6 separate regions of the Homo sapiens genome follow, and regions 1, 2, 3, 5 and 6 are each reported to be linked to region 4. Evidence: microRNA targets listed by miRTarBase, many of them from high-throughput screens and not tested one by one. Region 4 holds a microRNA gene; each other region holds the end of a gene's coding sequence.

Region 1 (3,000 bases), not on the chromosome of region 4:
CACATTACGGGAGTTTTTCAATGCCATTATCGCAGGCAAAGATGTTGATCCTTCCTGGAAGAAGGCCATATACAAGGTCATCTGCAAGCTGGATAGTGAAGTCCCTGAGATTTTCAAATCCCCGAACTGCCTACAAGAGCTGCTTCATGAGTAGAAATTTCAACAACTCTTTTTGAATGTATGAAGAGTAGCAGTCCCCTTTGGATGTCCAAGTTATATGTGTCTAGATTTTGATTTCATATATATGTGTATGGGAGGCATGGATATGTTATGAAATCAGCTGGTAATTCCTCCTCATCACGTTTCTCTCATTTTCTTTTGTTTTCCATTGCAAGGGGATGGTTGTTTTCTTTCTGCCTTTAGTTTGCTTTTGCCCAAGGCCCTTAACATTTGGACACTTAAAATAGGGTTAATTTTCAGGGAAAAAGAATGTTGGCGTGTGTAAAGTCTCTATTAGCAATGAAGGGAATTTGTTAACGATGCATCCACTTGATTGATGACTTATTGCAAATGGCGGTTGGCTGAGGAAAACCCATGACACAGCACAACTCTACAGACAGTGATGTGTCTCTTGTTTCTACTGCTAAGAAGGTCTGAAAATTTAATGAAACCACTTCATACATTTAAGTATTTTGTTTGGTTTGAACTCAATCAGTAGCTTTTCCTTACATGTTTAAAAATAATTCCAATGACAGATGAGCAGCTCACTTTTCCAAAGTACCCCAAAAGGCCAAATTAAAAAAGAAAAATAATCACTCTCAAGCCTTGTCTAAGAAAAGAGGCAAACTCTGAAAGTCGTACCAGTTTCTTCTGGAGGCAAAGCAATTTTGCACAAAACCAGCTCTCTCAAGATGAGACTAGAAATTCATACCTGGTCTTGTAGCCACCTCTCTAAACTTGAAAATAGGTTCTTCTTCATAAGTGAGCTTACATCATTCTTCATAAAGAAAAATCCTATAACTTGTTATCATTTTTGCTTCAGATACTAAAAGGCACTAAGTTTCCAATTTACGCTGCTCAACTTTGTTTATATGCTTAAAAGGATTCTGTTTACTTAACAATTTTTTCCCCTAAAATACTATTTTCTGAATACTTCCTTCCAGTAAGGAATAAAGGAAAGCCCAACTTGGCCATAAAATTCTTGCCTACACTAGAAGTTTGTTGACAGCCATTAGCTGACTTGATCGTCATCTCCTAAGAGGAACACATATATTTTCACAAGCAATTCCACACTATCCTGATGGGTATGCAAAGTGGTGACAGTCTAACTCAGTGTTTCTTCATTTTAGGTATAACATTTTAAAGCAATTGATAATGCCTCTTCCAATTCAGAAGCTAGTATTGACCAAAATGTGAGAAGAGTGTATAGCATAGGAAAATTTGGGGTTAACCCAAAAGACACAATTCCAGCACACATAAGAAAGCTAGCTGCTATTTTATGCTTTCTTCCATGGTTCTCCTCTTTTTTCCCTTTTATTTTTCCCTGTTTTTCAATGATGTACAGTGTTCCCTACTTGCATTGAAAAAACTCGTATGGCATTCACACTTTTTTTCTTAGGTGGGTTTTTGTGTCCAGATGCAGTAAGAATTCATTGTTCATCCTAAAACTGTTTTCCAGACCCTTCCTTCCCCTTAGGTAATTTGATATACACCTCCTAAAATGACACAGTAACAAATCTGGTATTTAGAACATATAGAACATAAATGCCATTTTTTAATTCAACTTTAATAAGAATTACATTTGACTTTGGAGAATACAGGTCTTGACCCATGTGACTGACTAGCTGACCCGATCGCTGTAATTTAACGTCATTTATAAATTCTGCTGATGGACAGGAATGTATGAACTCAATTATTGTCAGCACAAAGCCTTAAAACCTGCTGACTTTAAATTAAATGGTGCAGTCCTATGATGCCCTGCACCATCCAGGGGACTAACAGGGCCTCGCAGTGTAGACAGAGGGTGCAGCCACACGGGCGGGGGCACCAGCCACCTCACTCTGCACCCGCGGCCTCACACATCTCCCAGCTCACACTCTACTAATGCACAGAGTCATTAGATCCAATTTGTTATTTTTCTCACTTGCTTTAAAAAAAAGCAGTTTGGATAATCATGACATTGGAATAAAGTGGGAAGGAAAAATTCCATCAGCACAAAATAGGGAAGTAATCCCAACTTGTAGTCACAGTTTTCTGACTGGCTTTGTTTTAAAAGAGGATGGCAGTCCTTGTTCGTGTCAGTGTGCCACTGGGTTTTTGCTGTTCCGTGTAATTCATATCAACTTTGTGTTGCCATTTGCAAGGTAAAAGGCAAAGCTGTAGTGTATTCACCTATGTAGACAGATTGCTAGATATCTTTTTGATCTGGGGCGAGTTCAATATTGATTCCAGACTTATTTGGATTTTTTTAGTATTATTTTCCCCTCCCTTTCTAATTTAAATAGACAAATTAAGCAAAAGTGTGTGTTCACAACCAAATGTTGATGCCCTTATCTACTGATAATATCCTCTCAATGTTCACTGAGGCATAGAAATTATTTCAGAGTAGAAATTGCAGCATGAGGATAAACTCACCTCTTTGTTCTGAAAATAGAACTTTATCACTATGCTTTCCGGTGGTTTTCCCTTTTACAATCGAAATCTTGTGCCTCCCAAGTGCATTGGAAAATGACAAAAGCCTGTCTCTCCAAATTCCTATTTAACAGTTTGATTTTTTTTTTTTAATCACCATCTTTCAAATCTTAGCTCAACTCTCACCAAGTGAAAATTGGCTACTTGGGAGAAAGTTAACTTTCTATGGTGGGATGGTGAAGGATGAGGGACAGTTTACATAGGAAAAGAAAAAAAAAAGTCTAAAGTCCATGTTGAAAAACCACACTACCACTTATTTTCTGCTAACCCTAAATTATTTTTGCGTATACGCTTGAGGTTATAGTCTGTGCCTAGACCTAAAATGCACCAGCGGGGGGGATTTTAAAAAATCCTTCAAAATACCAGTTT
Region 2 (5,788 bases), not on the chromosome of region 4:
AGATAATACAAAATTTATGAAAACACAGATCTCATATCACAAAATATGGTCAAGCCATCTCTTCATATTAACTACTCTTTGAATTAAGTATATAATACATATAGGGATTGTGTGTGTTTTTTAATCCAGTAGAAGAGTAAAAAAAGAAAGTCTTTGAGGCTTTAAGTGAGTAAATCCTTCCTTAAGTACAATTCTAGTTCTCCTTTCATCTACTATCCCTTTAATGGTATGTACTTTGGAATGTGCTGTGAAACAGAAGTCATCTGTGCTGTTGAAGATACTAGACTCTGAATTAGGTTGGCTCTTAATTGCTTTACTAGATATTCCTTACCCAAATACCTCCTAATGTATTAATAATAAAGTGTTAGGAATGGAGTTATAAGTTTAACTTAAATGAAATCTTACTATTTTTAAATCACTGTATTATTTAGAAGGCATTAATATATTCTTGATTTTATTATAAAGCCTATTTGATTATGAAGTTCATTAATATATTTTTAATTTTTTAGCACTCTCAGAACTGTGGTGCAGGAACAGGTATTTTCCTTTTGATCAATGCATCGGTAATTATCATCATTCGAGGTCACCGCTTCTGCCTCTGGGGTTCCGTGTATTTGGATGCTCATGGAGAGGAAGACCGGGATCTTAGGTTAGATGTTCATGGATATATCCAGGTGTTTTATTGAAATTTGGTCAGTGAAAACCAATATGCTATTCCTGGCTTTGTAATTACAATTTTTTTAATATTAAGAAATTCTGACAGTCATTAATTTAGAGCTATTTCTAGTTTTTGAGCTATTGTCCCTATCAATACGTTGAGGAAACATGAAATACACCAAATTACCATGTGAGGTTTTTGCCACAAAGAATCCGTTGGCCAGGCCCAGTGGCTCACACCTGTAATCTCAGCACTTTGGGAGGCTGAAGCAGGATTGCTTGAGCCCAGGAGTTTGAGACCAGCCTGGACAACATAGTGAGACCTCATCTCTACAAAAAAATAAAAATAAATAAGCCAGGTGTGGTGGTCATACACCTGTGGTCCCAGCAACTCGGGAGGAGGTGGAAGGATCGCTTGAGCCCAGCAGGTGGCGGCTGCAGTGAGCTGTGATCGTGCCACTGCACACCAACCTGGGCAACAGAGAAAGACTGTCTCAAAAAAGAATCTAGTAAAAAAAGAAATGTGGTAGGTGTGGTGGCTCACGCCTGTAATCCCAGCACTTTGGGAGGCCGAGGTGGGTGGATCACTTGAGGTCAGGAGTTCGAGACCAGGCTGGCCAATATGGTGAAACCCCGTCTCTACTAAAAATACAAAAAATTAGCCGGGTGTGGTGGCGGGCCCCTATAGTCCCAGCTACTCTAGAGGCTGAGGCAGGAGAATGGCATGAACTCGGGAGGCGGAGCTTGCAGTGAGCCAAGATCGTGCCACTGCACTCCAGCCTGGGTGACAGAGTGGGACTCCGTCTCAAAAAAGAAATAAGTAAATAAAAAATAAAAAAATAAAAAAAGGAGGCAGGCATGGTGGTGAGCACCTGTAATCCCAGCTACTCGAGAGGCTGAGACAGGAGAATTGCTTGAACCCAGGAGGCGGAGGTTGCACTGCGAGAGACTGTCTCAGAAAAAAAAGAAGAAAGAAATGCATGTGAAATCTTCCGTGTATGATATTAATACTTTTTTTTTCTTTTTGTTCTAGGCGAGGCAAACCTCTCTACATTTGTAAGGAAAGATACAAAGTTCTTGAGCAACAGTGGATTTCTCATACTTTTGATCACATCAATAAAAGATGGGGTCCACATTACAATGGGCTGTGACTCTCCACCTCAGCATTGCATCGTATCATCATTTTCGCTACGAATTTATTTTTCAACAATAAGCTTTAACTTAATTTGGGGGATTAACACTTTTGCTGAGGGAGAAAAAGAAAACATACATTATGAAGCCTTTCCAAAATTAGGTGCTTGGTAATCACGTTAATGGTATAATTTTTTTTTTTTAATATCTGGAGAACATTAATAACAAGTTAAATTATTCTTTAGTGGTCATTTTTTAAGTGCACAATTAATAAGAAGCACAACTTGTTCACAAACTCATTCAGAAATGATTCTCCCAACAATGCGTATCAGCTATTCATTGATACTTAGAGTGGGTGTGATTTATTTGACATTTTACTGCTTCTTTCTGTCTGTGTGTTTTAATTTGCATCTGCCAAGCATAATGCATCTTTTTTCCTCTGCCATTCTTGTGTTGATTGGAGAATTTTTCTGTATGTAATTAGAAAAAAATGTAAAACATGATTTATGTGAAATACTGTATAGTAAAAGTTGGTCTAATAGTAGAACTTTAAAATTTTTTCTTATTGTGAGGAATCTGTTAAAAGTTTAAAGCTTTGCTGAAAACTGAATTCATTCTCAGGAATTTCATAAATCTTCTCCCCAGGTAAATAATTGAAATAGCTGTAAAATAAGTAGATAGCTGCTGTTAATATAATACAGTACATTTTGGGGGGCATATGTGTGGTTGGGGGGTCCTTAAAAATCAAAATTTGCCATTTCAGTTGGATGAATTACTAGAGGTAATAACAAATCTTACTATGAAATCAAGAGGTTTAAGAACATACACTGGGCAGATGTTGATTCCGTGCATGCCCACCTTTTATTACCAAACAAGGTTTTGTTTATATGATTGTATTAGAAATGCTCAGACTTCCCCAGAAATGAACCATAAATTTTGGAACTTCCTTTCAGCTCAAGAGGTTCAGCTATATTGTATTTGTGCAGTGTAATCACTACTATTTCTGCTCGGTTTCCTAAAAGGAAAAAAAAGGCGCAGTGGTGATGACCCTCATGAATGAGCCACGCTTCTGCATTCTTCTTAGAAACTGCTGTGAAAAACAATTTATGTTTGCAGGGTTTAAAAATCAGTAAAAATGGGAATGATTGAGCTAAAACCCACTCTATGAGAAGGAAGATTACTGAAAAGCATGTGACATATTGCTACAAAGATTTTTTTTCCTAAATGATTCAGTAATTGAATGATTATTTAATATATAGTGCTATCAAGCAATCCCTGGTACTTTGGACTTCCATGGCTTGTTATATAAAATTACATTTTTACATGTAAAAATAAACTAAACAAATCTAATGATAAAATATGTCAGATCCATGTTCTAAAAAATTTTTGTAATGACATGACATTACAAGAGTATAAAAATGGACATTAAATCATGGCCTTGCATTAAAATATGGAAAGCAGAGCAGTACATATTCAAATGTATTCAGAAAGTCAAAAGATTACCTATCGTTCTACAATAAAATACATGGAAATAGCTTGCTATTTTTATATACATTTCCAAAATATTAAGATAACTTTCTGTAAGAGTCAATGATTCTGTTCGACTAAATAGCTGTCCTTTCCAACACATTGCTACTTTTTTAAATACTGTATCATAAGTTCAGCCTGTCATACTTTTTGCATTGATCGTTATGAATACCAGACCATTTGTAAGTGTGGTTGAAGAGCAAAATGCTAATTGACATCTCTAGTAAATACTGTTACAGGATTCATGAACTTGAATAATTCTACAGTTTGAAACTCTGATGCTATATATACATGGTATAATGTATTCAGACTTTGATTACTACTTATTTAAAATGGAATGTTTTATGGTTGTGCATATGGATGTGAAGTGAAAATATTAGCCTTAACTTTAAAATTTGGGTGTTTGATAGTGTTTATTTTGATATTGGTGAATTAGTCACCAGTAAATTTTAAAAAAGCACTTGGTTGAAAATTGTACTTGAATACATACATGCATGCTGCTAAACTAGAACTTTAATTTTTCCCCATAACTTTTATAAGTCCCATTTATAAACCCACTTTTAAAAATAACAGGTCCAAGTTAGAGTGATGTGTGTATATTATTCAAAAAAATGTACTGGTGTGATATCTTGTATGAATGATCATTTAAATACAGTACATTACTGTAGAAGCTAAATTGATCTTTATAATTAAGCAGAAATTACAAAACTAGGAATAATCAACATTGTAAGATATGTTAATAAAAACCTGCTGTCATTTGGTTTGTGAAAGGTCCTTAAAATGTTTACTGCTTACATGTTTTTTTTTCCCCCAAAGATATTGACAGTAATATATGTGAGTGAACATGGCTGAAAAGATCAAAGCACAACATAATTAGTAGTTGCTTTAGGGTGGAGTAAGTGTAAAGGGTTTGCTTTGCTTTTTTTCTTTTATTTGCAGAGTGAGTTCTTGCTTCTTCAGTCCTTGTCTCATAATCAATGCACATTCTTTGCTAAGTGTGTGTGTTTGGTAGGGGGAGAAGGAAATGGGTATGTAGATCTGAGGAATTGTGATCTCTGTTCTTTTCTGAAAGTTCCCAGCCAGACTTCAGAAATGTTTAGTGCTTTATGAGAATGTTTATTTTGAGTGGTTTGCATTCTTGTTTGAATTGACAGTCCTCACCCCTACCTCTCCATCCTGAAGCTCACCAGCCATTTATCAGCTAGCAGTCCATTTCTCTTCAGACCTTTCTCTGTTTTATGTATTCCGATATTTACTGATTTCTGTGACTTAGAAAAAGATGCTGACTAAAAGCACTGAAGGCTTAGAGGAAACAGCAATATGGGAAGAGATGTGGTCTAAGACTCTCTGTATTATCTCCAGGATTCTAATTGCTGACTCTCAAATGGCTGTTGATGGCTTATATTTGAGATCATATTTGGGGTTGGGGGGGACACAAAGCATGGTTTTAACCACTAGAATCAAATCACCGAGAGAAGATGAATTCATTGGTGAGGATGCCTGATGATTGATGATTGTGGGAGAGCAGATGACTTATGACTGTGTCTCAGTCCCATTCACAGCACATAGTTCTTTCCTCTGCCTTATGATCTGGCTAGATGATATCAAGCACTGCTTAGTTCAACAGGGATGAGCTGGAGTGGGCAAAACAGCAACATGATCACTTCTCTATTTATGACACTTCAAGCTCCCTATTAATTAGGCATATCAGGTATGGAAGAGCTATGACCTGCCATCTTAGTGTACAGTACAAGTAGTGGAATGAATGTGACTTCAGCTGATGCAACACAGTGAAAACACACAATGGAACCTTGTGTAGAGCTGCCTTTGTGCAAGTTAAATTAATGTAAGATGTGACAGTACCAAAATCAGTGAGGTAGAGCCCAAGAGCAGACCAGAAGGAGTGGGGTCAAGAGCACAGATAAAAGCTTCAGGTTGAGGGGAAAAGATACAAGAGAAAAGGAAAGAAAGTCTAGAGCAAAATAAGAGGATTTGTGTCTGATTCCCTCTTCTCTTGGTGACAAAGGAGCAGGATCATGTACCGAGAGTGAACAGGCCTAGCATATCTGGGGGCTTGAGATAAGTGGCAAAAGCTTAGACATATGCTAGGAGAGAGAACAGGCCAGAAATAAGGGGAAGCACCACTGAAGTTATATTGACAGCCAAGTGGGGTTAGAAAACCTAAGTTTAATGGAGCCAGTTAGAAAGATTCTGTAACTTTGTGGAGCCCCTGAGTTTAGCAGCTTAGGACCTGAAGGATAGAAATTAGACTGCTAAATTAACTGGGGTTTGGAGACACGGATACAAAATGTAAAGGATGCAATATAAGTTAAGAGAATTAGGGGAGCTGGTTGAAATGAGTGTGGGGTTCATGTTGGATTTGTAGGGGCGTAGGATTGGAAGACACAATAAGATTTAGTAAGACAATGAACTCTTTCAAAGTTTTCTTTTGAACTTACGCAAAATTGCTGCA
Region 3 (5,243 bases), not on the chromosome of region 4:
TCACATTCCATAGTTGTGTGTCCAAGTAGAGGTCTGTTACGGCTTTTGCAGAATGGATCCTTGCTCAGGGAAAGTATTCACACCATCTGGCACAGAGGTCCCTTTCAACCTGAGGATGAAAGCCTGCATTATATTCTTAAGCAAAGCCTTCCCTGACCCCCAGTGCCCATGTAAGCTCACCACAGCACTTACCACCTAGAATTTCAATGGTGGTTACGTCTCTCTCCACTACGCTGTGAACAGCTTGAGGATAGGGAATTTGCCAACTCTGTTATGGTCCTTGCACCCAGAATAGGACGTTCTTGCCCAAACCCACCATTCTTGGGATCTCAAGTTCATAAGCGTCCTGTTGAAGGCCCTCATTCTTATAGTTAGCCCTGGGGAGTCCAGTTCTGTTAAGATGCTTTCATCAAAAACTTCACAGTTGCTCTTCTGTGCTCTACTCTGTAGTTGGGCCACACTGAGCAGATTCTTTGGTAGAATTTTCAACTTGAGACTAACACAAGTATTTCCTTTTCTGTTCAGTTCTCCAAATGACAAGAAGTCTTTTTGCTCAATTGAAGGGGAATGGAATGGTGTGATGTATGCAAAATATGCAACAGGGGTAAGATCCTCTATTTTGCCACTTGTTTTAGGCTACATTAGATTGTACTCTATCCCTTTTTCTGGCTTCCTTCATTAGTACTTCCTTCATAATGCATTTCCTTCTACAGTATATTAGAGCTGGAACTTTAGGACAGCTCCAGTGTATGTCATCTCTTCAGGGCAAGCTTTTTCTTTCCTTCCCCCACCTTCTCCCAGCAGTATAGGTAATTATAATCATTTTTACTTTTCTCTCTGCTCTCAAAACACTTGAGAATAATATATGTAAAACAATGCCTGGCACATAGTAAGAACCCAGTAAATGTTAGGTATGTGGCGTATGTTTATAAAATGAAGCACTAAACTGTGTGTTTCCATACACACACAGTTGAAGATTTTGTATAATAAAATTTACTGACTGCCTGGCACCAGAGATACCAAAATGAGTTAAGATAGACCTTTCCTTCAAAGAACTTGCACTCTGTACTACTGCCCACTCAGTGTTCTTAAACAGAGGAAAGATGTTATGAAATTAACAGGAGGAGCCAGTTAACTGCATTTTGGACCTAGAGAATTTGAAGTGTCAAAAGCACTACAATGCATCTAACATTAGGTTAGGGGTTTATGGGTCTAGTTCCCATCCACCTCTATTGTTTTCTAGGAAAATACAGTCTTTGTAGATACCAAGAAGTTGCCTATAATCAAGAAGAAAGTGAGGAAGTTGGAAGATCAGAACGAGTATGAATCCCGCAGGTAAGCCGACATTGTTAAGTGGAACTATTGCTGCAGTGCTTAAACTTTGCCTAGGCGTAGGCACAGGGCTGGGTTTGAGAGACAGTAGGGCAGAGCATAATAGTATAGACCAAGTTTGAATTCCTGGGTTCGTATGTCAGAACTACCACTTACTACCTTTGTGACCATGGATGGCTCAGTCAGCTAACTTCTCTTTACCTTCTTTCCTGAAATGAGAATAAAGGCCTTGAGAGGAAGCCACATCTTAACTAACTTTAAAGCCTCTGTAATTTACTTCTTGACCCTTATTCTCTCCATTCATACTATTTTCTCCATCATATTGTTAAATCCAAGGGAGTTTTTCTGAAATGGAACTTCTCAGTTCCTCTAACACTTACAGGTATATATTAAGGGACACTCAAGCCCTACAGAGGTAAACTGATTGACCCAGAGTTGCACAGTAAGTTAGACATAGAGCCAGAAGTAGAATCCCAGGTCTCAGCTTCCACTATTCTTTTTCTTCTGTTGACCTTATCATACTATCAGGCAGCCCTTATTTCCTTCTTTGACAACTAGCAGTGGAGTCTTCTGAGCCCATATGTCTGTTCCTTACTCCAGTGCCCTGGTGCCAGCGTAAGGAGATTTAGTCTGTGACCTACAGCACTTAAAGCCATTTGACTTGTATTATACTATATTCAGGATGGCTGCAGGCTTTCATTCTCAACATTGGCAGCTCCTCTTACCTCTTTGTTTTAGCCTTTGGAAGGATGTCACTTTCAACTTAAAAATCAGAGACATTGATGCAGCAACTGAAGCAAAGCACAGGCTTGAAGAAAGACAAAGAGCAGAAGCCCGAGAAAGGAAGGAGAAGGAAATTCAGTGGGAGACAAGGGTAAGCTTGCCTGCCCCACCCTCCTAAGTGCTGTTCCTCCTAATTTATTTCAGTGAATGTTGAAGAAGTGATGTGCCAAACACTGTTTATAAACAAGATGATCGCTGGTCCCTACTTGAAACTCATTTCAGTCTAATGGCGGGGTGGGGAGCAGATATGAAATAGTAAGTATATTACAGAAGTACAAAGCAAATATGTAACTAAATTCTTCCTCTTTGTCTTACAGTTATTTCATGAAGATGGAGAATGCTGGGTTTATGATGAACCATTACTGAAACGTCTTGGTGCTGCCAAGCATTAGGTTGGAAGATGCAAAGTTTATACCTGATGATCAGGGCAGTAGGCATAATTCAGCAACAAACAATCTTCCTTTGGGAGAAACCTGTTCATTCCAATCTTCTAATTACAGTGGTTCCTATCTCAGGGATACTGGACTTTCTGACGCAGATGAACAATTAAGGGGAAAAGCTTCCCTTTTCCCTCTGTGGCAGTTACGATTTTGACTTCAGTCCTGAGAAAAACTTCAGGTTTTGAAAATCAGATGATGTCTTCTCCTTTTCCAAACACCACACGTTGAAAGCATTTATAAATCCAAGTCTGAAACTCTGCGCTCTAGTACTGCTGTTAAGATACACAACTTGTTTCTTAGTTCATATAATCTCGGGATACACACACACACACACATATATATACACACACATACGTATACACACACATACATATATATAAATATACCTGATGCCAGATTTTTTTCATAAATATTCTGCCTACTGTAAATATGGGTTCCTCTGAGTTGTTTTAGAAAATTAGCGCAATGTATTAAAATCAAGTGTTAGGAAATTTCATGGTCTTACCTACAATAACTTTTATTTTGGAATTGAACTATTATTAAATTGTATCTAATCCTGGATTACAGTTTAATTAATTATTCTTAGTGCTTAAGGCTTCATAAAGTAATTTTTCCAACCTTTTTTTTAAAAATGTGCATCTTTTATTATCTTTTATGGTTAAACTTGGAAGCCAATTATTTGGCAACCTTGAATACAAGAGCTAGCTTTTCAAAGAAAGACACTTGAAATAATGGAGGATCCATTCTTTTCCTCTGTCAGATTGTATGTTCTGTCTTTAGCCCCTGCCAGGCAATTCCCCAGAATCTTCACTTAACTCATATTGCACATGTAGGGCTGCCTACCAACATTTTATCCAAAAATGTTTTATTGCCTTAGAGGGTTTGGGAAGAGTGTGTATTTATAGATCCCCACCCCACAGTGAACAAAAATAGATAGATAGATAGAATAAAATGAATGCCACAGCAGCAGATGGCTCATTCTGAAGGGAAATACAGAACTATATCTATCTATCTATCTATCATCTTTTTTATTTAAAAATACATTAAAAAAACAGGTATTAGTACCTAGCATTTAGTTAGTTATTCAATATACTGGTTACGTAAGGCCTTTCAAGAAGTAGATTCTCAGTCTGAGAGGACACAGGCCAGGGCTTCTCAAAGTGCTGCTGCAGGCTTTCTGGTCTCGCTTGGCCCATTCTGCTAATTTTCCTTTGCCAGCTCCTACAGTAACCCTGGGTTTATTAGTCTCAACAAAGGATAAAAAGTAAATCAAATGCTATGATGCCAGTGCAAAACTTCAATGGAAGCCCTAAGGCAGTAGTATAACTAACTCCATAAAATACAAACAAACACATTTTAAAATACACATTGCTTCAGGCCAACGTGACTGCAGTTTATTTATTTGACTATTTTATGGTAGGGGAGAAGGTTGAGTGTTGTTGTGAAAGCCCTGATATCAGTAATGGGGATGATACAATCTGCCAGCAGAGGAGAGGTTGGCAGGTAGGTCAGCTGCATCACTTCACAAGAAGAATTTGAATCCTCACTAGAAGGGGTACCATCCTCTTCCAGTTCATACTTCCCATATCCAACAACCTGAAAGAGGACAAAGACAAAAGTGAAAAATATGCTGACCAGATTTAGGGGTTTAAGAGTTCTGATGATAACCACCCAAACTCACTCAGTAAATGACAACCCTAGAATGGATGGAGTTAGTTAAACATACTCACATGAACGCTGAGCATTTTACTTCCTGGCCCTCTATGGGCCTTGAACCAGTTGACCAGGTCTGATTTTGAGAATGACTTCAGTGCTTCAATCTTACAAGGGAAGGGAAGATAGGAAAGAAATTCAAGAAGAAAGATAGCTCTTAAACCTAACCCCCAGGCAGATGTCCCTGGACCTGCTTAGCATCTGAAGACCTCATTTTATTCTTCCTATTCTCAGGTTACCCCTAACCTTCCAGACCAAAACGATGATGAAGCTCTCTGGCATGCCTTCACATTTTATACCAATCATCTACAATGGCAAGAGAGGTTAGCAGATGCTATAATTACAGCTAAATACCATACACTGAGCCCAACACCCACATCCCCTTAGTGTCACCTCCCAATTACATGGTAGCTGCATACCACGGCTTGAGGAAATCTACCTTGCTTCTATTAAGAAAACTAAAATGTGTTAAGATGAAGCCTCTTACTAAATAACCTCTTTACATCACAGAGCAATGATGTCCTATGGTAATTCACCATGTAGGGGCTATGTATTAACCAAAGTCACACTGGAGTACAAGATCCAGATCTTTTTCATAGGTTTTACTACTTTGGAATAGAAGTTGTCAAAACACATGCACTTGGAATAATGAACTCCGTAAAGACAAAGAGTCCTCAATTTTCTTTAAACGGCAAAACTCTTTTTCTCCACAAAATCTTGTAGACCTCAATATATAGCATAAAAATAGAGCTGCTCTGATTGAAATTGGTGGTGGTGTGGTAAGGATTAGCACCCAGCTCACGTGGCCACCTAAGGTGCTAGAGAGGCCAGTCTGAAAACTCAGGAAGTGAGCGAGTAATCAGGCCAGGACTAGTGTTTCGAGTTTCTCTTCCACACAATGCTGGTGTGCACAGACCTGTGATGCCTGTAGAATCAGGAACCTTGACCAGTTTGAGCTGTCTTACTCTGAAAACC
Region 4 (5,788 bases):
AATGAGGCCTCCCTAAAAACCCCCAAACCAGGATTCAGAGAGCTTCCACATAGCTGAACACGGGGAGATTCCTGAGACCAGGGGGGCATGGAAGCTTTGCACCCCTTCCCCTGTACCTCATCCTGTGTATCTCTTTATCTGTATTCTTTGTAATATCCTTTATAATTAACTGGTAAATGTAAGCACATGTTTCCCTGAGTTCTGAGAGTTGCTGAACAACTTAATCAAACTCAAAGAGGGTATTGTGGCAACCCCAACTTGAAGCTGGTTGGTCAGATATTCTTGATGCCCAGACTTATGACTTATACCTGAAGTGGAGCAGGAGGTGGTCGTGGGGACTGAGCCTTCAACTGGTGAGATCTGATGCTGTCTTTAGGTAGATAGTGCCAGAATTGAATTGGAGGAGACTCAGCTTCTATCCACTGCAGAATTGATTGTTTGCTTGGTGTGTGAGAGAAAAAAAAAACAAACACATATTTGGTCACAAAAGTCCCCTATGCATGTTATTGGTTGTTGAGTGAGAAAATAGAAAAAAACATTTTGAGTTCACGTGTGATTCACACAGCGTAAATGAGAGAATGAGTTGTTTTTCAACAAAGAAAGTTTGGGAATTTTGTTCTTATTAACAATATGTTATAAATCTGTTAATGAAACTTCCGTGTACTTTTCCCTGGTAATAGTTGTAACAGAAATAGAAGGCATAATAGTTTCTATTAGCACACACTAGGAACCAAGGAATGATTAATCTTCTCCAGGACTCCAATGTTGGTGATATTTTATTATGGATATTTTACAGATGAGGAGGTTGATGCTTTAAGAGGTCATTAATGTCTAATGGTCAAATCTAGAAGGAGTTTAAGGTGAATTAGACCTGGGTTTCCATGTAGAGTCCATGCTTGTCTAACTTGTCCTGTGTTTATAAAATGTTTTAAATGAATTTCAACTTTTACTTGACAATGTAGTTTTAATCATAAACATATCTACAATATTGATTATTGTTCTTTGATAACACTGAGGGTAATTTATCTCCTAACTAGTCCAAGATATTATACTTTGATTTTTTATGTTTTCTTGGACAGCTTTGTATTACTTCTTTTTATCTTTAGGGCACCTCACAATGTTGTCAGTGGACCTACCTATCTTCTTGAGACAGTTCTCTTATTCCTCCATTTCCAGAAAACTGACAATTTCTACGTGTCTGTGAGTTAAGAGATTAAAATATGATGTTACTTTTCCTTGTCTAAATGGCCCACCTAAGAATTATGTATAACCATTACTTTTTTTGTAAACGTCGCTTGTAGTTATTTTATTTGACTACTTGGAGAACTTTATTCTTTATTCTCTGGTTCTCATTTGTCTTGAAGGATGAAATTTCCAGAGAAGTAAACTCTAGCAAATGAAAGCATTTAAATGGGTTTTTGAAAATTGTTATTTTTTGTTTCTTGCATGTCATCATAGTACAAACAAAATTATTGAAAAACATCAGGTGTTTTGTTTTGCAAGAACTTGAAATTGTGTTTTCTAAATTAGTAAGAATAGAAACAAATTAACTACAAATCCCAAGTAATAGAGACAGTCACTGACTCTGGAAGATTGACATCTTAAAAGTTTCTGTGTCTATTGATATTATAATGTGGTTTGTGTCTTTAGTTCTGTTTATGTGATGAATCACAATGATTGATTTGCGTATGTTGAATCAGCCTTGCATCCTGGGGATGAAGACTATTTGATCGTGGTGCATAAGGTTTTTGGTGTGCTGCTGGATTCAGTTTGCCAGTATTTTGTTGAGGATTTTTGTATCTATGTTCATCAAGGACATTGGCTTTAAAGGTTTCTGTTTTTATGGCATCTCTGTCAGGTTTTGGTATCAAGATGATGCTGGCCTCATAGAATGAGTTAGAGAGGAGTTCACAGGAACATGGATGGAGGCAGAGGCCATTATCCTTAGCAAACTAATGCAGGAACACAAAACCAAAGATTGCATGTTCTCACTTGTAAGTGGGAAATAAATGATGAAAACACATGGACACATGGGAGGGAACAACACACATTGGAGCCTGTTGGAGAGTGAGTGGTGGGAGGAAGGAGAGGATCAGAAAGAGTAGCTAATGGATGCTGGGCTTAATACCTGGGTGACAGGATGATCTGTGCAACAAACCACCCTGGCACAAGTTTATCTATGTGACAAACATGCACATCCTGCACATGTGCCCCTGCTTAAAATAAAAATTGGAAATTAAAAAAAAATGTTTCTATGAAAAAACTTCTCTATGAAAAAAGTTTTCTATGAGAAACAACACTCTGGAGCTCTTCACATACATCATTTCCTGGAGATTTTTAATGCAGTATAGTTTTTAAATACTCTGAAATGTCCTGTGAAAAGTAAACCTGGTTAAACTGATTGAACCTGATATTTTCCAAAACAAATATATAGATACACACAGAGAGATACATGTATGCGCACATATGTGTACATAAATATGTATTTAAATTAAAATAAATGAAAAAGTAGTAGTCAAATATGCAGATCTATGTCATATATACAGATATGTATATGTGACTGCTACTTTTTTGTTTAATTCTCTTACCCCTATCTTTCTCTTTTCTATGTATGCAGGTATGTAACAGATATGCAATTGTACCTTGGAAGATGCTTTTCTCATATTTTGGCATCACCTATTGTTTAATCCTAAAGCCAAGGAAAGACTCAATATTTAACACTTGAATTTAAGATTATAAATTATATTTACCAAAAAGGCAAATATTATCCTAACACTGCATTTTAATTTCATGACTTCCAATATATCTGGAGATTAGGGAGGAAAAAGGTGTTAAAATTTTTATTTTAAAGTACATCACTTTACAGTTTTCTGACAACTATAGCTGACAAATTTGTTTTGTCTCAAAGATAATTTAGAGTGACAAGTTATTTCTTTTGGGGGCCACAGATGCAAGAAAAGATTTACTTCATCTGCTTATTACCCTAGAAATCTCTAAACAAAATTCTAGTTCAACTTGCATTTGTGATTTCTCTAGACTTTACTTTATTTACCAGTGCCCTATATGGACAAGATCATTTAATTAAAAAAAACCCTTAGAATTATAAAATTATAAAGTAAAATTGAAGGAAATGTATGGAGTATTTCATTGAACCTTATCATTTCTTTGTGTGCATGTGTTTGTGTGTGCGTGTGTGTCTGTCTGTCTGTGAGAGAAAGACAAAGCACAATGACTTAAATTGGCCATTTTGTCTCCCTATATTGGACAACTAGAGTCATGAATGCTGATTTTGCTGAGTCAGCATCCCTACTGGGAAACACAGAGGCCACTTGGTAGAGGCAAATATAAACGTTCTTGGGAAACACATTTTTGTTTAAATTTTCCTCATAAATTTATTAGACTAAAATCAACTGGTATAACAGAAATAAAAACACGGTGCAAATATAAACTTTTATTTTTATATTGATTCATTATTTGCTTTATAAATTTTTTATTTTATAAATAAAATGGCCTTATGTAATTGCAATGGCATACATGAATTTTTTTCCAGGTATTGTTTGACTTTTAATAAGCTGGTTAGTGACTTTCCACTAAGTAAATCTTCACGACTAAATAGTGTACTGCAAGGATGCAAATACAACCCCAGGCCTTTGTCAATAAGCTCCCTCTATGCTCCAGTGTAAAATAAAATTATCGTTTGCTTCTTCACATCTCATATCCCTTCTCCATTTTGTACTGTGTAGAATTTGTACTTTTGCTTTGCATTTAAGGAAATACCTGTCACTTATCTTTTTTTTTTCTTTTGTAGCTTTCATGCTAATAAAGAATTGGCTGTCCTCACCTAGCAAAATATTTTTATGCACAAACTACAATGACATGGTTGCCAACCTGGTTTAATGGTTTGAATTAAGAATGACCATTTATTTATGATAATAGAAATGCTCTCAATAAACCAGTTCAGTGCACTATATGCCATAAGTAGACTTACTAAATTGAGAGGACAGAGCCTGGTAAAAAGAAGTCAACTCCTCATCAAACAAAGAAGAAAAAAGAAAGATTGAAATAACAGACTAATTCATTTTTGATACAACGTTTTTAAAATCTTTTGAGGGAGAAATTGTCTGCTCTCTGCAAATGCAAACCAGCTAGTTTCTGCTTCCAAACAATTGAAGAGTATTGCTCACAAAATTATAAAGAAGGCTGTTTGTTTATGGAGCTCTCACACATCTCCTTTCAGTCTTTCTCTTGACTTTTCCCTCCCTACTCCATCAGAAACTATGTGATTCCTTATTCCTGACATCACAAGCTCAATGCCACAAAAGCCAGTCATTTAATAAAGGTGTGAAGACAACAGTGTGTGTGTGTGTGTGTGTGTGTGTGTGTGTGTGTGTGTGTGTGGCATGAATTTTACAGATGTTTGAGTGCACGTGTGCATGTGCTTTTGAAGCAGGGATTTATTTCTCAGGTACTACCAATTGTTGCTAGAACTAATTGCAGGCTGTAAAAATAACGTAGATACCTACATTTTTATTTGGAATTCCTTAATTTCTACATGTTGGTCTCTGTTATGAGCTGAATTATGTCCCCCTCAAAATTCATATGTTGTAGCACTAACCCGTAATAATTCAGAATATGTCTGTATTTGGATACAGGGCTGTTAAACAGGTAATTAAGGTAAAATTAGGTCATATAGGTGTGCCCTAATCTAATATGACTGGTGTTTTTATAAGAAGAGATTAGGGTAGACAACACAGAGATGAAGAGAGGGCCACGTGAGTACACCATCTGCAAACCAAGGTGAGAGGCCTCGGTAGAAATAAAAAATTCTGACATCTTGTTCTGGGACTTCTAACCTGCAGAACTACGAAAAATTAATTTCTATTGTTTCAGGCATCCAGTTTGTGGTATTTTGTTATGGCAGCCATAATAAACTAATGCAGTCTTCTTTTTCAAAATATTTCTCTGGTCAAACGAAATGTGTAAAGTTCAAATTTCACATTTTGCCAAAAGTCTGCTAAAGTTTACCTGTGCTTTATTTACTAATTGAATCATATTTTATCAAATAGGACTTATAATTTAGTGTTAATTGGCCAAAGCATGCAATTTCAACTCATTACCTTTTTTTTTCTTTTGAATCACATATTTTACTTTAAAATGACTGTAGATTCACATGTAGGTATAAGAAATAATACAGAGAGATGTGGGGTATAATCGACTGGGTTTCCTCCAATGATGACAACCAGGATATTGATATTGTTACATTCAATGTACAGAATATTTCCATCACATTTCCATTCATAATGTTCTTTGTAGCCACACTTACTTCTCTCTCACTTTCACTTCCTCCATAAACCCTGACAACCATTAATCTGTTCTCAATTTCTATAATTTTGTTTTTTCAAGAATGTTATGGGCGGGACATGGTGGCTCATGCCTGTACTCCCAGCACTTTGGGAGGCTGAGGTGGGCGGATCATGAGGTCAAGAGATTGAGACCATCTTGGCTAACACGATGAAACCCTGTCTCTACTAAAAATACGAACATTAGCTAGACGTGTTGGCGGGTGCCTGTAATCCCAGCTGCTTGGGAGGCTGTGGCAGGAGAATCTCTTGCACCCAGGAGGCGGAGGTTGCAGTGAGCCAAGATAGCTCCACTGCACTCCAGCCTGGCGACAGAGTGAGGCTCTGTCTCAAAAAAAAAAAAAAAAAAATAGTGATATAATAGGAATCACGCAACGTGTAACCATAACTTGTTGGGATTGGCTTCTTTACATTTCAGCATAACTTTG
Region 5 (5,788 bases), not on the chromosome of region 4:
TCACCATTTATGCTGGGTATGAGTCCCAATGCATGGGTATTGCAACCTATTGTCAGGCCTTAACATGTATGTGTTTGCTTTTATTATTACTAAAATGTTAAAACTTAAACCCAATTATTCACCAAACTCTGAACACCTCAACCTCAGAGCTCCAGAATTAGGAATGAATGACAAAGTTTAGACTCTAATCATTTTAAGAATGTTAGGTGGGAAGAAATGGCTTCAGATGCAGTATTGTGTTCATCTTTCCAGGGGAACATCTCAAATGGGTATTCTGAAGCAGGTTGAGAAGTAGATAAAATTCTCTGCTACAAGTTCCATCCACTTTTTTTTTTTCAAGAGACCAGGTCTCACTATGTTGCCCAGGATGGTCTCAAACTCCTGAGCTCAAGTGATCCTCCCGCCTTGGCCTCCCAAAGTGCTAGGATTACAGGCGTGAGCCACCACACCCAGCCAAGTTCCATCCACTTTTGAAAACAAGACATTTATGTATAGGAAGAGAATTATGGAAACACTTTGTAAAACATCCATTTATTATATCCAATGCTAAACACTACCACTTGGACTCTAAGATATGTTTATGCCTCTCTGTTTATTCTAGTTTTTTAAAAATCAAATATACAAGATCTACAATTATTTATATCCAAGATGTCTACACCACTGCCTAAGAAGCTATTAAAATATTTGTATTTGTGCAATGGAACCCATTATTCACATGGTCCTAGAATAAAAAGTCAATTTATATTGTGAATAAATTTATCAAAAAACATGTCATCCAATTCCCACAAATGAGACATTTTAAATACAGAATACACTCTGTTCATGAATATAAAATCCCCAGGTGAAAGTCCCTTAAAACACTATTATGGTTATGTTTCCTAGAATAATTTTATAACTTTTTCAGAGAATTCCTTTAAACTTGTTAAAATACCTTGTTGCTAGTGCTCAGAACATCTAGGTTCAGTCTTTATTTTTAAGACAGTATCTATCCTAGGCAAATGAGAGCTTGTTTTTATGTATTTAAGAGTTTCCTCTTGTCATTTCAATGTCAAATTGATTTGACTCAATTTCATGATTTCATCTCGCTCAAGGCCATCAACCGGTCAGAGCCAGAGCCCTTCAAAGGCTGTATGTGAGTATATGAGGGAAAACTTTCCACATAATTTTACATCATTTCTATCTCATAGCAGTTTTAGTTTTCTCATAGCTATCTCATAGCAGTTTTAGTTTTCTCAAATTCTATGCTGTTTTTGTACTACTGCAGCTGACCAATCCAAAGCCAGTTTACACTCAGCATGTGTTATTCTACTTTAAAATATAACCTTAGTGAAAGCACCCTTCAAATCAACAGCAATCTCACAGTGAGTTTCCTCTGGGTAGTCAGGATTTGTCCAGAACTACATCCTTTTCAGATGTTCAGAGTTTTGCTTGCCATTAGGGAGGCAAGGGAAGGATGAGCAATAAATCAGGTTTCTCGTTCGTATCTTACTTCTTACCTAATTTTCTCCCTGTTGCTTATTTGGTACATTCCCTTCTCTGAATTCCTTAAACACTTTATAAGGTTATTTCTGCCATACAAGTGTAGACAATTGTATTAATTCTAGTCTTGACTAAAGATTTTAACATTTTTCTGGGTGCCATTTTTATCTATTCTCTCTCCCCCCAAATTCTCTGGGCTAAACAGGCATGATAGTCTACCTAGTGTTACTTGACCATTACTTTCCCACTGCAATTATAAAATGAATTCCTTAATAAGCAATTTTAAACTAGAAGATATATCCAAAACTTTTTAAAGGCACAAAGGACAACTTTAGGACACAACACTGATTAGCATCAAAACCTGAAACTGTTCCTCTAGTAAGTCTATGCAATCCTAATAATGTATACTGAAGAGTAGTAGCTCAGGCCAGTGGTTCTTAGCATTACTTGCTAAAAAAGATAAAAATCCATGACACTATCTTCAACTGTTAAATATCTTATGTTAACTAAGGATTTGCCTGTTCCAAAAATGTCTCAACTGAACCTATACATCACCTAAACTCCAGCTTATAGCAAGAAAATTCCTTAGAAGTATGAATTCATATTTATGATCTGATTTTAAAGGGCTAAAACAAAATTCTAAGCAATCAGAAATATAGCAAACCTAAACTTACCAAAGCAACCTAAAAACACCAAGGAAACGCTAGACTGAAGTCAAATTTTAGTTCTACAGTTTGACTCCTGATTCCTCACTTCACATTGGTGAGGGGAAGATTAAAGTGTTCTGTGCAAACCCAATATAATTACAATTAGGGGATCTAATGTTATTACATAGCTACAGTCAAGTTAGCAGTGTTGTGTAGCAGTGACATCAATGACTGGCTTGCATGATGGCTTCTAAAAGCATCTGATCCCAGAGTTTCATGTATCATATATATGTATATAAAATAATCAGTTGAGGACAGCATTAGCATTCTGTAAAGATGATAAACTCAGTGTTAACTTCTCCCAGCCAGTACCTTTTCCCCTCATTAAATATGTTAAAAGTTGTCTGGGGGGGAGGGGAAGGGAAGAATTCAACTTTACTTCATAATTATGTATCAATTGTCAGTATACATTTAAGTTTTTAAAACCTAAATGTTCTATGCAGAGTAAAGAATAAGCTGTCCAGAAAGCACACACTTAATAAATTTCTCCTCTTGGGAGTTATATAAAGGGATTTTGAACCTTGATGGCGAGAATCCCAAAACAAGAGTAAAATGAATTCTTTTTATTGCAAACAAACGTCTAAATTAATTTCTCCACCCACTTTCTTTAGAAAGAAAAAGAAATCAGCAGGCTAAGGAGATACCCATTCAAGAACTGACATGATTAAAAATTAAGATATAAATGGGTGACTCACAATTTCATTAGCTTACAAAGATGGTGGAGTTAACTACTACAAGCACACTAGTTATACAGTATTTTGTGGGAGAAGGGCATACAGACATGGCTAACTTCATATAGATCCCATTAGACAACTGGATTTACAACAAGTTTTTTTAATAAGAAATGGGCAAAGCCAGCTTTCTTTTCAGAATCAAAATGCAGAACAAATGGAAAAATTATGGTATTAACCTTCACAAGTTTGAGCCTCCACAAATAATGCAACCAAGTTTTACATTTTTAACAGCCCTTCTACATACACTCCATCTTCTCTATCTTAGTTCCAAGTTTTAGTTTTCAATCCCAATTATACCAATTCCATTGTTATTTTAAGAAAAAACCTTCCCAGTTATTGTCAGAAACTATGATTTAGCTTACCCCCTCCACTACCCAGCAAACTACAGAGAGGATGGAGTGTAATATGAGCAGTACAGAGTCTTAATGCAATTCATGAGGACCACTTAGTCCTTACATGAATCTGGTTGCTAACATTTCTATTATATTGTGACAATGACTCCCGACTGTTATTCTCTGTGAGAAATGGGGGGAGTAAATTCTTAATAAAAGACACCAGGTACAAAGCAACATTTTACTTCTGTTGTGATAAAAAAAAAAAAAAGTCACATTTTACAGATAAAATGTAGAACCCTGAAATACTGACACATTCTCTTATCGTGCACAATGCTGAGGTTCTCTTACGATTCACTTTTAAACTGCAATTAAAAATGTACAAAAAAGAAAAGAAAAAAAATCAACCCACAAAGCTTCTAAAAAAGGAACCCGCAGGCACTTCCTCTTGTGGAATGTTTAAAAAGTTAGCCTACTAAAGAAAACAGTCGACTTCTTGTGAAGGTTTTGGAGAAATATGTATCAGTTCGTTTTATTTGGGTATTCAATAATATCCTTGGTGATAATGCTGACTCCATGGCTTCTGACCCCAGAATTGCTGTAAGAGAAAATTTTGTTTTTAAAGAAAAAACATCAATAAGCCACTCAAACTGTTTTTAGGAAATGACAATGAATCTAATTCAGAGTAATTTGCTGGAAACAAATTTATACCTGTCATACCTCTGATTTCTACCAAACCAGATTTAGTTTTAATATCCCATAATTATCAATACACATTACAAAACGAAACATCATGACTTTGTTAGTTTACACAATTAAAGCTAGCAGTAAAAGAACTGTATATATTAAATAATATTACTTTATTAAAAAAATTTAACTTATAGCAATCTTCAACCTATTTTGCCTTCAAAAGGTAGATTATGGCTACTACTGCAAGACGATTCACACTTTACCCTATTAACACTTATAAACACTTCAATCCCTGAACAAGATCTTTTTCAAGACTGATAAATCTTAGGAACTCAAAATACAATTAATGTACATAAAGCACATAAGAAATTACTTACACCCTGCTGCCACTGGTTGTAGCCCTGAGATTGATTTTTGTAGCCACGATTGTTTCCTCGTCCTCTGAAGTTCTACAAAAAGGAAATACTCTCTAAGAGCTCTGAGCCCAATTGCTTGTTAGGTTTGTGGGGGTGAGAGAGAGGAGCAGAAATGGACAGGTTGCTAGCCCCTAATCTTAGGTAGCAAGCAATACACAAATTCTGGATACCCTCTGCTGGTTTCTTATGTTTTAATTTTTTATTCATTATGAGAAATGCATCTGACTTGTTTAGTACACCTGAAAAAACTCAAAAGTAAGTAGACTCATTTCACCATTACTAGTTCAATTTTCCTTATGTCAATGCCTATCATGTTCCTTACGGATTACTAAGACACCCCAACATAAAGCTCACACCTTTCCAGACTAAGCTACAGTTATCAATCATGCTTCCAGGGATCTTGAATCATTACCTGGTTGTAGTTCCCTCTGTTGGGCATTCCACCTCTGTTGTAGTTCCCTCTGTTTGAGTAACTACCACGGCCAGGAAAAACAGGGGCACGAGGGTATGGATAGCCGATTCCACCACTTCCTCCACCGCCACCACCTCTCTGTGGCATGTTGCCCCTCCTATTATATCCGCCACGATTCCCAGGGGCTAAAAGACAAGAGCTGTTTTAGTTTCATTGTATATTGTACCCTACTTATACAGAAGACTTAGGATTCCTCTAGATTGTTCCTTTTTCTCCAAAAATAATTGTTTAAAGACAAAAGAAATGTTTAATTCTAACCATTAACATAACCTAGGTGTATTTAATATCAAATCACATGAATACTTTAGTTACTGTGACAGTATACCATTAATGAGGAAGAAACTTCAGCTACATCCAAACTATAAAATTATCACTTGTTTCGATCCTGAACTAAATACAGAACACTCAAAATTAACTTGCCTCCTCCTCTGAAATTTCCACCACGCATATTGAATCCTCCACGTCCTCTATGGCCACCACCTCTGTTAAACTGGTTCTTGCCACTCTTATTTTTATTGCTTTTCTTTGAGCCAGTGTTCTGTTTCTTTTCTGGTGGAAGAGCCTTTTTGCTTTCTTCCTTATATTGCTCCAAGAGTTTTTGGGCTTCTTCCTTCTGAAGTTCAACATAGGTTATTTCATCAAAGCACTCAGCTACCTCTGGGAGGGTAAAGTTTCCTGCAGGAAACAAAGTCATATTATTAATTTAGAAACCCACCACGAATCCTCACAATCCTAAAGCTGACAATTCTTGAGGTTTAGTAACATATTTTCCTAAAAATAAAAACAGACCAAACATATATGCATATGTAACAACTGCAATTTTAATTCCTGAAGCAGTATTGCTGGAAAAAATGTTAACTTTCAGGAGGCCTAAGTCCTAATAGATTTAACATAGTTACACAAGCAGAATATGTAGGAAAAACATTCTTTTAAAAAGAAGATTTCACACAGTAACAGA
Region 6 (5,788 bases), not on the chromosome of region 4:
CATCAACAGCAGATTTGTATATGTCACAAAACTCTCCTTATCAAGACATAAAATATTGCCATATCATTCATGCTTTCAAAACAATGTTCATATAAGCTCTCGCATTTGAAACCAGATGGTAAGACCTGAATGCTACAAGAGTGAACATAACTTAAATGCTAACTACACGTTCAAGTACAGACATAAGAATGCTAGTGGTACAAACACTGTACTCCAAATGATGTTGTTAATCACCTACCAGCCTAAGACTAGTATCTACTTGATGGAACTTGAAAAAGCCATAAAGTCCAACTTGTTTAAAATGTTCAGACTTAGACTTACACTTCAAGATCTAGTATACATTTATTAATAAGCCCTAACCTCGTACCATAAAAAAATGGGCATGTGCTGTATTTGGGACATGCGGACACACCCACACCCACCCACAATCTCTCCCCTCCTCATGTTTACTAGACTGAAAAGCCACCCTGTATCCTATCATTAAAAAACAAAACAAAACAAAACAAAACAGTGCTTTTAGTCAAGCAGCACAACACAAGGACAGATCATCTGTGATTAACAGAAGCGAACGCCTTAAAATGATGGGAGAGAGACAAATTAACTAGGTACTAAGTCAGATTTCCAAGTGAAAAAGACATGAGCAAAACTTCTGGTCTTAATTTCTCAAATAAAACTAAAATAAATGAAATGGTAACAGAGTGACTTTCTCTAAATTTATTAGGGAGTTTGTTACAAATGTTTGGGCTTTACAGGCATGATTTCACGGATTCAAACAAGAAATTAACACTGATATTTAGCCTTCTCATGACATACACAGAAATAACATTGCTACAAACTGCAATGGAGAGAATCTTGTTTCAAATGGCTTAGTTTGGGGTTTTGTCTAAATGTATCATTATATAATGAAAGCACCAATTTGAGGGTTTCTCAAATAGTGATTTGAATTTTAGGACATAACAGTGTAACATGGTAACTTTATTCTTCATATATAAATAAGGCATAATCGGATGTGTATTAATGCTGAAAATACATTTTATCAAAAGCATAAATACAAGTATTTGGGTACACATTGAAAGTTAGGACTTAACCAATTTCTTCTTACAAAAAATGATAAGGACATATGGTATTTGTTGAATCTAAATCAGCACTTCTAATCATTTCTGGTATTAAGGCGATCTTATTTCCTTCTACTTTAAACCAACCACTGCCACCAACTGAATAAGGATTTCCCTAAACAGCCTCAATTTGAGAGACTAACCAGAGGACCTTCTCTATGCAAATTACATGCCAATACACCTTAAAAGAAAATAAGACAAAAGTGAATGAGTTTTTTCATTCCATATTGCTTTCTTTGGTTGCAGAGCAATCCAGTGCCCTTTCCAGATAATAAAATTGAAATGAAGATTTCAATTTAATATTTGGCAGACAGCAACAATGCAGGTTATTAAAAATATTAAAGGGGCAGAGGCATGCTTTGAATTACTCAGATTTTCAGAAAACATTTGACAAAACCCTTTCTCTATAAAAGTTATGGTCTAAATTTATGTTGTTTTATAAGGCAACTGTATATACATTTCTTCAAGGTCAATGAAGACACTTGTGTGATATTTCCTCAGAATTAAATGAGAAGGCATTCAGATTTAAGAACAGAATGTAACACAGGATTAGGCACATTTTATTCCAAATCATAACCATAAAGATTTAGAAAATCAAATACATCAAAGAACTTTAAATCTAAATTACTTTTTTAGAGACTGGGGTAAGTTTGCATAGTGAAATTATGAGCACCTTTTCAATTCTGTTCACTAAATTTCATCTCTCTCTTCATATAGTGGTATTTCAAAAGGATTCAGTTTTCATGATACAGGTGTAAGACTCCTTTCAAACGTTTTTAAAATACAACGTATAAAAAAATGTGGACTGAAGCCTTTAGATTGAACTTAAAGTTCTACTGAATGTCAAAACAAGCCTAAGTTGAATATAAGTAATTCATTGCCTCAAAATATAGTCTAGATTTTAAAAGAATGTTGATTCTGAGACATTACATGCAGCAGGGAAGAAAACTGCAAATGCCCAAAATAACATGATATCTATTTGGTGTTTCAACACTTCTTGGTGGTAATTCAAAAGGGGGAAACTTGGTGATTTCTGCTTTGTCAGGCAATATCTATGGTTCGTATCACAGATCTTAACTATGACTTAAGTAAGATGAAGTGTCCTCTTTCTATAGGGATCTAACTTGAGCCCTCACTGGAGTCAAATGTTTTGGCCATTCAATTTGCTAAATGTATGGGTAAACTCTCCAATGAATAGTCCAAATGTTACTGTGCACATATTCCGATATTCATTAGCACTGCAATTATGCTAATTTTGTGAATTTAAACAATGTATTCTTTTTGGCAAGAAGCACTAGATGTAGAACTATTCAAACACGCATGAATGATACCATGATACCACGAACATGCACGATACCATGAACTTGCATCACGGTGCCGGGCTACGTATGTGTAGCTCATGGATTACCATGGCATGAAAATGCTAGAAGTTATATGGATACAATGATAGTGGAAGTTCAAATGTGAGAAAAGTCAGGTATGTCAAGAACAATCCCTGGTTAGTTCACTGAAAAGCCCCACTCTCGTATCAGACAGCAAGACAGAACAACAGCCACTGACTTGGAAAGGCTGGGTGATCCATAACGACCAATCTTTCAAGGACCAATAAAATACCTGAGTACACAGTCAGCTATACAGTAAAATGACAGATATCACAGTCTTAAAATTTTCAGGAAAAGTAGAAAAGCTGTCAGACTTTTCAAGCTGTCGCCAGCCTTGGACTTCTGTTTCTCTAATTGTAGCACTACATACAGCCTAGAAGATAGTATTTCAGTACTGCAAACCAGCCATTCTGATGAGTTCACTATGAATGTATCTGCGATCACAAAGCTACTTCGTGGACACATTTTAATTTGGTAAGCAGTCGGGGGAGGTCAATGTAATCATCTTTAGGTGCGAACTAAAAAAATTACTACTGATCCTTAGAAGCATCCTTAAAACATTTAAAATATACCTCAAAAAAGCTGGACTTTCAACAACAACAATTATACAAATGTATACATACTGTATCTGTTAGAGACACACCAAGAATGAACAGGAATCTCAAATAATGCCTTCTTGAATAGTCTTGACAGAAAAATACTGCCCTTAGCAAACTCCAAATAAACAAAACGATGCCACAAATGGCACAGTGTGGAGTTGATGGGACTGGACAGGACAGCAAAAGATAGATGTTTGTGATGATACAACAATGATTTCCTACAGTAAGGATTGGTCTTTACTGACCAACTGAGATAGGGCTTAAAAGTCAAATACATGACATTCTGGAACAGGTTAAGTTTATTTAGAAAGTTCTGTTACCAAGTTGCTTGCAGTTTTTAGTTGCTGCTATGGCCAGAATGTTTCACATATGGTACATTAAACTACATGATAATTAAATATGAGAAAGGCAAATTCTATTTCACTCGTTACGTTTGACCAAAACACGGTAAACAGCATTAGCTTGCCTTTTGCTCTCCCATACCACCTGTGAACTCTTCATCAGCATCAGACCAAAGATCCTTATGTAAACTTGAAAACAGGAAGAACATTACCTTCAGAAACACAGAAATCTAAAAGCAAAACAGCTGTTGTGTATACAAGCAATTAAAATATGAAGGCTAAACCTTCTATAAACCTACAGAATGCCATTTCTTAGATAGAACTTCTAACAGCCCTTACAAAATAGGAGGTCACCATAAAGTTAGGCAACAAGTGTCACTGCTATATGTAAGGCGGACAGAAGATATCTTGTTTTGGAACTGAATATTCCTAACCTCATCCCTACAAGTATTTAAGGACACCTTTGATACTTGGCACTGCAGGAGAATTCAGTTTGGAAAGTAGAATAATTTAAAGCCTGAAATATGCCTAGTCTGAGGTCAGCTGGGAGGTTTTAACTGGACTTGAATAGAAGCCATGGTGAAACAGATCAAAGCCTGCATTACAGCAAATCTTGGCGATGAGTCACTCAACAGCTTTCAGCCACAAACCAAAGGCCGCAGAAAAAGTACTAAGATTTTCAAGAAGTTAAACGTAGAATTAAGATTGTTCTAATTCTGGTTGTAAACTGCTATTTTAAAAAACAAAACAAACAGAAAACATCAAAAACACAAAAAGATATTAAAACAGCAAGTCTTTTGTACATCACTGTAGCATAAGCTGCTTGAGGTTGTCATGCAGAATAGTATCCTTCACGTCACGGAAAACAAGGCGGATGTTCTCCGTGTTGATAGCAGTGGTGAAGTGGTGGTATAAGGGCTTCTGTTGCTGGTCCCGGCGTTTGTTCCGGAAACATTCCACCAGGAATTTTTGGACGTCTCTTAAGCAGTGGGGATCCCCTTCAAATTCTAGGAAATAGTCTTTGATGCTCACAATTTGCACCTTCTCCTCAAGCAAGTCTGTCTTGTTTAAGAACAGAATTATGGAGACATTGCTGAAAACCCGGTTATTGACGATTGTTTCAAAAATGTTCAGAGACTCTGTAAGGCGATTGGTCAGTCGATCTTCCATAAGCACCTGGTCAAATTCACTTGAGGAAACAAGGAAAAGTATTGATGTCACACTGTCGAAACATTCAAACCAACGTTTCCTTTCTGATCTCTGACCACCTACATCAACCATTTTGAAAGGAACATTTTTTATTTCAAAGTCGTATTCATGGATGCCTTTGGTGGGTCTTCTGGCAAGCAGAATATCTTGTTGTGATGGAATATAATCCTGGAAAAGAAAAAACTTGTTTTATACCTATTAATCCCGAAGTAATGCGAATTTTTAATGGACTACTAACTGGACTAGTGAATAGATATGCAAACAAAATGATCTTTTAAGTGACATTTTCAGATAGATTATGCTTATTATAAAATGCCAAGACTGGTCAGACATGGTGGGTCATGCCTATAATCCCAGCACTTTGGGAGGCTGAGGCAGGAGGATCGCTTGCGAAGCCAGGAGTTTGAGAATATCCTGGGCAATATAGCAAGACCCACTTGTGCTCCCCACAACAAAAGCCAAGATACATTAAAATGTTAGCAGGACGGGTTCAAAATTTACTACAAATGGCCAGAATCTACTTGTTTTCATCCCTGCAATACTACTCAAAATTTAAGCTGAAGTCTTATCAATTGTTCTTACCCACCCTCACTGCTATATATCCACCTGCAATCTTACTCCCCACTATCAGCCACTCTTGGTTCTAGCCAGAGTGATCTTCCTGTCTGCGTATCTACCTTCTCCACACTGCTCCTTGCTCCTCTATTAAAAGCAATGGGGGCTGGGCGCGATGGCTCACGCTTGTAATTCCAGCACTTTGGGAGGCCGAGACGGGCAGATCACGAGGTCAGGAGATTGAGACCATCCTGGCTAACACAGTGAAACCCCATCTCTACTAAAAATACAAAAAAATTAGCCAGGTGTGGTGGCGGGCGCCTGTAGTCCCAGCTACTTGGGAGGCTGAGGCAGGAGAGTGGTGTGAACCCAGGAGGTGGAGCTTGCAGTGAGCTGAGATCATGCCACTGCACTCCAGCCTGGGTGACAGAGCAAGACTTTGTCTTAAAAAAAAAAAAAAAAAAAAAAAAGGCAATGGGATCTGATTCCAGTGCCAATTCACAAGGATCACTTCCCAGTTCCAAGTTCTGCCCACCTCTCTCTAACCTATTCTAAAAGTTCTTTTACTGTGCAACCCCACTCATGAC

The links. The annotated mature microRNA hsa-miR-3924 reads AUAUGUAUAUGUGACUGCUACU and lies in region 4 at 2,547-2,568, shown strand. An mRNA with a match to its seed (bases 2 to 7 or 8) in the 3' UTR can be bound and repressed. Matches are read on the target gene's strand: a 7mer-m8 pairs with bases 2 to 8, a 7mer-A1 pairs with bases 2 to 7 and ends in A, and an 8mer does both.
Region 1: the mRNA of PROX1 is a reported target of hsa-miR-3924. The part of its 3' UTR that is shown has no 7-base or 8-base seed match.
Region 2: miRTarBase lists UBR3 as a target of hsa-miR-3924. Seed matches in the 3' UTR shown: 7mer-m8 at 3,798-3,804.
Region 3: miRTarBase lists OSBPL9 as a target of hsa-miR-3924. Seed matches in the 3' UTR shown: 7mer-m8 at 2,922-2,928.
Region 5: miRTarBase lists HNRNPU as a target of hsa-miR-3924. Seed matches in the 3' UTR shown: 7mer-m8 at 3,769-3,775, 8mer at 2,573-2,580, 7mer-m8 at 2,415-2,421, 8mer at 1,013-1,020 and 8mer at 486-493.
Region 6: miRTarBase lists GNA13 as a target of hsa-miR-3924. Seed matches in the 3' UTR shown: 7mer-A1 at 3,618-3,624.

The regions. Positions count from the first base shown.
Region 1 is chr1:214,035,681-214,038,680 of GRCh38, forward strand. PROX1 (prospero homeobox 1) reads left to right here. Exons shown (of 5, transcript NM_001270616.2): 5 at 1-3,000. The coding sequence ends at 154. Among named protein-coding and RNA genes, the nearest start is that of PROX1, 49 kb to the left of the region's middle.
Region 2 is chr2:170,080,036-170,085,823 of GRCh38, forward strand. UBR3 (ubiquitin protein ligase E3 component n-recognin 3) reads left to right here. Exons shown (of 39, transcript NM_172070.4): 38 at 510-649; 39 at 1,691-4,096. The coding sequence ends at 1,808. Among named protein-coding and RNA genes, the nearest start is that of MYO3B, 95 kb to the right of the region's middle.
Region 3 is chr1:51,785,283-51,790,525 of GRCh38, forward strand. OSBPL9 (oxysterol binding protein like 9) reads left to right here. Exons shown (of 24, transcript NM_024586.6): 21 at 526-604; 22 at 1,244-1,335; 23 at 2,071-2,206; 24 at 2,433-3,937. The coding sequence ends at 2,507. It overlaps NRDC (nardilysin convertase), which reads right to left. Exons shown (of 31, transcript NM_001101662.2): 30 at 4,286-4,375; 31 at 3,928-4,151. The coding sequence ends at 3,954. Among named protein-coding and RNA genes, the nearest start is that of MIR761, 48 kb to the right of the region's middle. RefSeq lists silencers at 1-229, 1,661-1,861, 3,341-3,541.
Region 4 is chr10:57,301,269-57,307,056 of GRCh38, reverse strand. It overlaps MIR3924 (microRNA 3924), which reads left to right and starts at 2,498; the gene lies at 2,498-2,578.
Region 5 is chr1:244,850,654-244,856,441 of GRCh38, forward strand. HNRNPU (heterogeneous nuclear ribonucleoprotein U) reads right to left here. Exons shown (of 14, transcript NM_031844.3): 11 at 5,251-5,505; 12 at 4,771-4,955; 13 at 4,320-4,391; 14 at 1-3,850. The coding sequence ends at 3,797. SNORA100 (small nucleolar RNA, H/ACA box 100) reads right to left here and starts at 3,564; the gene lies at 3,434-3,564.
Region 6 is chr17:65,010,016-65,015,803 of GRCh38, forward strand. GNA13 (G protein subunit alpha 13) reads right to left here. Exons shown (of 4, transcript NM_006572.6): 4 at 1-4,814. The coding sequence ends at 4,242. Among named protein-coding and RNA genes, the nearest start is that of GNA13, 44 kb to the right of the region's middle.